Homo sapiens: one gene and its partner. The protein of the gene in region 1 interacts with the protein of each later gene in a pairwise test. Each region holds a gene or a part of one and is shown on either strand. Other genes may lie near its edges.

Evidence for each region. The genes of interacting proteins can lie anywhere in the genome.
Region 2: the proteins of DDX6 (region 1) and SLAIN1 interact in binary tests that used the Homo sapiens proteins (3 or more experiments, as listed by UniProt).

The regions. Positions count from the first base shown.
Region 1 is NC_000011.10:118,749,510-118,753,263, forward strand, and holds part of DDX6 (probable ATP-dependent RNA helicase DDX6), read right to left. Parts: intron 2,589-3,754; 3' UTR 1-2,588.
Region 2 is NC_000013.11:77,749,580-77,753,333, forward strand, and holds part of SLAIN1 (SLAIN motif-containing protein 1), read left to right. Parts: intron 1-3,623; coding exon 3,624-3,754. UniProt on the Homo sapiens protein: Microtubule plus-end tracking protein that might be involved in the regulation of cytoplasmic microtubule dynamics, microtubule organization and microtubule elongation.

The DNA.
Region 1 (3,754 bases):
TGCCACTCCTCATTAGAGGCTATACTTCAGTAATACTTTCCATTTTAAGTCTGTGCTTTAAGAGGGACCCACAGGCATGTGGCACCACGCAGTCTAAAGTTGGTGAAGGAGACTGCACTTTTTGTTTAGTCACCCACACGTTCTCTAGCGAGATACAGAATTGCATTTATACTCTTTTCTTCTACATGAATGATCCCTCTTATCTCGCAAGAGGTGGGGGAGAAAGAGAGCTGCATCGGTACAAGGGCACAATTTTTTTGGTCAAAAGTTGACACCTTTTAAATTCCCTCTCCCACCCCTCCCTGGAAAAAAGTTACTTCCTTAATTAGGTTTTCTATTTAGTAACCAACATTGACTGGACAGAAAATATGAGGCTTGGGTTCCAAATAGATGAGCTTGTTCTTTTTTGGGTTTGTACCGTGCAGTTCTTGCTACAGTTGTTAAGGAGTTAGGGCTATGTCCCATCAGGAGGCATCTGTAGGATTTTGATCTCCAAGGAATTGTGGGTGAGTCGCAAATAGTTTGCTCAGAAGTAGGCAGAGTCAAAAAAGCAACTTCAAGTAATTGATTCCTTTGTCCAAAAGAGTTAAAACATTAAAGTATATGCGGGACTTATTTTGTAATATTTTAGGGTTTTGAAAAATAAAATATGGAAATCAATTTTTTTTAATTTTGTTTTTTGCTTTTTTCCCCCCCTTTCCAGATGCCTCCTGATTGACCTAGTACACTGGGTTAAAAGGGAATTAAAAACATTAAAAAAAAAAGTTCACTGGTTTTGATTCATCTCACTCCTTTTGCCTGGAGATCAGGCCAAACATCAAGCATGTTGGGAGGGGCACAATTTAAAGCAACACTATTGACTGTAAAGCATCTGCCAGCAATTTACAGTGCAAAATGACAGGTAACAATTCTTGTCACAATGCAAGAGAATGGCAAGCAGCTTTCTGTAGCATGAAAGTTAACAGCTCTCAGGTTGCCCATTCCTGCAAAAGTTTATGTATCAAAGCGGGCAGAGGGCAACACATTTACACACTACAGGAAATGATCCACAGAAAATTAAGCTCCAGAACTGCTAACATTACCAAAGCTGGTACTGGCTAATATTCTGAAATGCAAATCTGTGCTTTATATATATACTGCTCAATGACACTGCCACTCAATAGAATTCCTACACTGCAAGGTAGATTAATCTTTGCCCCCTGTTGCAGAGCTTGAAATATTCCTCAAACTTTTAGAAAGGGGGAAGAAGCAAAATCAGAGCTTCTCAAAATAAATGTTGAATTATCAATGTTTTGAAGCTTCCTTGCTCTCTCTGGTAAACCTACTCCAAAGGTACTAGATGAGACAGTGTGGCAGCAAACAGTACATCCCAGATTTCTGGGCCCCTTTACTAACACAGGGTACCATAGAAATCTGCTCTCTACAGCACGAGGCCAAAGTACTTTCTAGAATTTAGTGTTGCGTAAAACTGAGCCCCTCTCATCTTTAGCTGCTCCCATAATCACTCTAATCCCCTTAATCCCAGCAACCTTCATCCAAAAAAAAATATATATATATGTATATATATATATATATATGAACCCAGAAAAAAAACTTATTTACAAAGTTATACAAGTATACACACCCAATTTTCTATGGGACACGCTTTGCCACAGAGGAAAGAGGGCCAAGGCTCTGACATGTCTACACATCAAGTGCCATACTACTACTGGAGGCATATGTAACCCAGTCTTTAGTGTCTGCTATAGAGCACAAAGGCTTGTCATATGGCTCCTGCAATGATAGACTGCTCTTTCCTTTGGGAGCGATGATGTTTTTTATCTACTCAGCCCAGAAGAAATTTTTACTTGGGATTGTTTTTTTAAATACATGTATTTACAGTGCGGATGAACTGCAGTTGCATATCAACTCCTCCCCAAAAAGAAAAAAAAAATGGTGTTTAACATTACTAGTGAGTTTCAACTTCTAGCCCTGGGCTCGAGTACTGGGTAGAAAGGGAAGAGACTTCAACCTGAAACCAAAATAAGAAGACATTTTTTAAAAGAAAAAGAAAAAAAAACGGAAAGAAAGAGTTACTATTGTTGATTCCTCGGGCTGTGTCTAAAAGATGATATTCTGAATGGTCTCATAGCATAAGGCACTTCGCACAAATAAGTAATAAGCTCTTCAGGCTTAAAAAACGGATGAGGAATCAGGGAGAAGTTGAAATGCACGAGAGTCAGCTGTTGGAGAATTTTGAAATCATTGACAAGCTTGTGTGTTCATTAAGATTCTTCTCTTTTTAGGGTTTCTCCCCTTCTCTTCTTTCTTTTCCTTCCTTGTCCCCTTTCCCCAGAAAACATTTTTTAAAAACCAGCAGTTAGTGCAACTAATGTTCAGTCAGCACACAGTGCAAACAAGTGGAACAAAAAAGGTATATTCCTTCTTTTCAGCCTTTTTCTCTTCACCAGTTAAAAAAAGAAAATGTCTGAGCTCTTTTAAGTCTTCATAGTTCCAAAATAAAAGATGAAAAACCCACAAAGAGAGGAGCATTCCCCCCAAAACGATGTGTCACAGATCCAAACGAGCCTTTTGTAATTTGTCAAAGCCTACAGAAGAAGAGAATACAAAATTAACATTCTGAAAGCAACACAAACTAGGATACATAGGTTTTCACAATCCTCATCCCAAATGCTCTTTTCTAGTAGTTTCTACTAACCCTGTGCCTACTATAGAATCTACTGGTTATAGGATTAAATAATTTCTGGTAGGCAACCCTGAGATAGATTGGGGGCCTGAATGAATGTGAATGTTCTGATAGCAGGCAGCCCTCACTCGTAACAAATCCGGGGGAAAAAAATTAACCTTACACAAACTGAATACTCTGCCAAAGTACTAGCAAACATTGGCTAGTTTCATGCTTGTCCAAGAGTTTGTGTTTGATGTTTAACTTAAGGAAAAAAAGAGTACAGAGTAATTTAAAAATTATTTAAGTAACAATTGGTTGGGTGAGGTGGCTCCTGCCAGTAATCTCAGCACTCTGGGAGGCTGAGGTGGGCGGATCACCTGAGGTCAGGAGTTTGAGACCAGCCTGGCCAACATGGTAAATCCTCGTCTCTATTTAAAAAAGAAAGAGAAAAAAAATTTAAGTAACATTAGGTTACTTAAATAGGTAAGATGTTCACCTATAACTTGGAAACTATCCTTTGTCAAATCAGATTTTCTTTAGGAAATACTGAAACAACCTACCTTGCTTAAAGCTGAGCCTTGTTTCATGCATTTCTAACTAGAGCCCAATAGTCACCAAAAGATGATAGAGGCAGGGCGTGGTGGCTCACACCTATAATCCCAGCACTCTGGGAAGCCAAAGTGGGAGGATCATTTGAACCCAGGAGTTTGAAACCAGCCGGGGCAACATAGTGAGATCCCATCTTAATAAAAATAAAAAAAAGATGGGAAGACAGGTTGTCCAGGAAATCAGAGTGGGTATTTTATTTATGTATTTGACGGAGTTTCACTCTTATTACCTAGGAAATCAGAGTGGGTTATTTATATATGAGGCAGAGTTTCACTCTTATCGCCCAGGCTCGAGTGCAATGGCATGACCTCGGCTCACTGCAACCTCTGCCTCCCAGGTTCAAGAGATTCTCCTGCCTCAGCCTCCTGACTAGCTGGGATTACAGGCGCCCGCCACCATGCCTGGCTAATTTTCTGTATCTTTAGTGGACACGGGGTCTCACCAGGTTGGCCAGGCTGGTCTTGAAGTCCTGACCTC
Region 2 (3,754 bases), on another chromosome or scaffold:
CTCATTTGAATTCTTTACTTGGTCTATTCTTCCAGTTTCCTGCTGCATCTCAGCCCTTGAAGATTAAACTGCTGATTTCTTGTGAAGATAGAACTAGAACATTACTTTTGGTTCCCTGAACTTTAAAGAATATGTGGTTATTAAAACGTTCCACATTGTTTGACAGGAAATGTACCTCATTTCCAGATGGTCTGACACAAGTTGGAGATCACAGCTTTGTTCCAAGGGGAATAGTGTCCTAAATATTTACACTTGGAAGACCTTATTTTTAAGAGCATATTTCAGGATTAAAGCTTTGTGAAACTGACTTGTTGCTTAAATATGAGTAAAGATTGGTTTTAAAGACTAACACAGATTAGAGGCATAGCCAAATGTAACGTATGGACCTTGATTGGATCGTGGTTTAGAGGAAAAAGCTTGTGAAAGATATTCTTGGGATGTCTGAAAAATTTTGTATGCAGATTATCATATGATATTGTTAATTTGTTTACATGTGATTACAATATTGTGATTCCATAGAATTTTCTCAGGAGATCAATATGCATTTAAAGTGTCAAGATGTCTGAAGTTTTATCTTGTTTAGCAAAGCAAACAAAAGTACATGTGGAGATGAATTAAATATGGCAAAATGGAAACAACCAGTATAGCCAGGTGGAAAAACAGGTGTTTATGATACTATTTTTTAACATTTCTATATGTATGAAAACTATTATAGTAAATAGTTGGAGAGAGATTTTAAAAAGAAATATAGAAGCTCAATTAATTTTCTCAATAGCATATAATTATGTTCCTGTGCCTCCCTGCTGCTTAAAAATATATGTATTGGAAATATGTATAGTGAAAATAGTCTAGTACTGATAGAGGCTGTCTTTTTTACACCAGTTTTTGTAATAGTCAAAAGATCTAGATATGGCCACTAAGATTATGTAGAGATGAATCCTTCTAATTCCTCCCTTCTTACTACACACTGTCTGCCAAATCATACACATAATATTTGCTGATATATAAAGTACCTGCTCTGTGAGGCTGGGAACTTTAATAGGAATTTGGGAATACGAGACGTATGATTGTTAAAAATAGGCATCAAGAAGATAATGAGGAAAATTGCCAAGGAATCTAACAGTCAGTGGCAATATTTGAGCATCCTTACTCTAGAACTACACACAGAAAGTAATGTGTGAGAGGTAGATACTTCCAGCTGGGAAGTCCATAGAAAAGCTTCTCTATGGTGGGGATAATTGTGCCAATTCTTAAAGTATTAGTAAGACCCACATGAGTAAAATATTCTTTTGTGCTTTCTACCATAGCACTCTCTACAATTTTTTATGCTCTCTTATTATACATATTATCTAAGTATACTTATTGTGCTTGTTTAATCTTCTGCCTTTTCCACCCCAAGGGAGCAAAAATTGCTGGACATGGCAACATTTAATAGGTGTTAGTAATGTCAAAGGAGTAGTGTATGAAAGGGGAATAAGAAGAGCTGAGTTTGATTTTGACTTGAATGCCTTTTGGATTAGCATTCAAGTATATCATTATTTTCTGGTTTTGCTTGAAAGAAAATGACCACAAGATTGAATGCTCTGATATGTGCACTTTAGTGTTTTGCGGTATATATCAATAAAGATAAAAATATCTTGTAAGTTGGAGGGGTGAAAAAAATTTTAGATATTACAATGATTTATGATCTTCCATGGTTTACCCCTATCAAAATGTTAATCTTTAATATTTATTTTATTTGGGAAAAAATTTAATTTTAAGTTTAATTAAATTTATTTTAGATTTTCTCTTTAGGATCAACAATGGGTGGGGAAGGATTGAGAAGCACTGGTCTAGACTATAAACCTAGACCATAAATCTTGACTATAAACTCAATGAGACTCTGGACTGTATCTGCCTAATACACTGTGGTATCCCCAACAGCTCACAGAGTGTCTGGTATTTAGTGTAAACACAATAGATGTTTGTTCCCTTGTTCATTTGTTCCTTCTCCAAAGTGAGGTTGGGTGTCCACATGGAGGGACCAGCCTGCTCACAGGTATGAGAGAGTTCACCCCTGTGGTCGGGGAGCAGGCTGAGAGGCCAGGCTGGAGAAGTATAAAGAGCCTGGGCCTTGAAGCCCTCATCTGGGCTGTGCTCAGGAGCTTGGCCTTTCAGAAGAGGGAGCAGGGGAGGAATTGAGGAGTTGGAGGGATTTCAGCAAGTGGGTGACGCATGCTGTGCTCTAGGAAGAGTGGAATCGAGTACTTGAATTAGTTTTGTCCTTGAATTAGTTATGGCTTAGTACTCGTATATATGCTTTTTTTTTCAGTTTAAATGACCTGACATAGGTACTTTAGTTTTTGGGGGATGTGTATTGATCAAGGAAAAAGTGTCTCATAGAGTTGTGGTCTTGTGGCTGGCTTATTTCACATGTGTTATTTCACACATCTCAACATTGAGATCTGTATGTGACTCTCTGCTGCCTCTTGGTGGCAGAAGATGAACTTAGCAAGGCAAAAAAATTGAAGCATTCTCTTGGTCTTTTTTATCTGCAAACATTTGGTGGCGTACTCATGAAAGTTAAAACTTTCCAGAGATTAATGTGGTCATGTTAATGTGATGAGTGGATATTTCAAGACATCTGAAGTTTGAATTTTATTAATTTGTTCCATTTTGATATGGTAGCAAAAGATTCAGTAAATGTTGGTTTTGATTCTTCTAGGGTTCTTTTTTTTTTTTTTTTTTAAGAAGCATGTAACTTAATTTCTAGGGTTGTTTTGGTAAATTTAATGGCTATAAGATTATTTTCTAACTTTTTAAATATAGTTTTAGCCACTTATTGAATAGGAACAGATAGCTAACTGCTTAGCTAGTCCCTAAGTCTTTTTATAGAAGTTTCGTTCTCCTTTAACACATTGTATTAGTTAGGGTTCTCTAGAGGGACAGAACTAACAGGATAAATGTATATATGAAGGGGCATTGATTAAGGAGTATTGACTCACACGATCACAAGGTGAGGTCCCATGATAGGCTGTCTGCAAGCTGAGGAGCAAGGAAGACAGTCGGAGTCCCAAATCCTCAAAAGTAGGGAAGCCGCCAGTGCAGCCTTCAGTCTGTGGCCAAAGGCCTGAGAGATCCTGGCAAACCACTGATGTAAGTCCAAGAGTCCACAAGCTGAAGAACTTGGAGTCTGATGCTCGAGGGTAGGAAGCATCCAGCACAGGAGAAAGGTGAAGTCTGCTCCTTCTGCATTCTTCTGCGCTTTTATCCTAGCCATGCTGGCAGCTGATTAGATGGTGCCTATCCAGATGGAGGGTGGGTCTACCCCTCCCAGTCCACTGACTCAAATGTTAATCTCCTTTGGCAACACCCTCACAGACACACCCAGGAGCAATGCTTTACATCCTTCAATCCAATCAAGTTGGCACTCAATATTAACCATCACACATGCTTATTTGGTGGGAACCCTTCTGGTTGGGAAGGGTGTTTTCCTGTACAATAGGTTAGAAAGCTTGATCATCAACATGTAATAATTTGTATTTATTATTGAGCACAATATGACTTTTGTTATTTGCTTTTGAAAGCTAGTACTTTGGTTGCATAACATCTGTCATTTTTAACTTAGTAAAATTCTTTTCCAGATAAGCTCCGAAGAAGTATGCCTAACCTAGCCCGGATGCCAAGTACAACTGCCATTAGTAGCAACATTAGTTCTCCGGTCACCGTGCGAAATAGTCAGAGTTTTGACTCAAGCTTGCATGGAGCTGGAAAT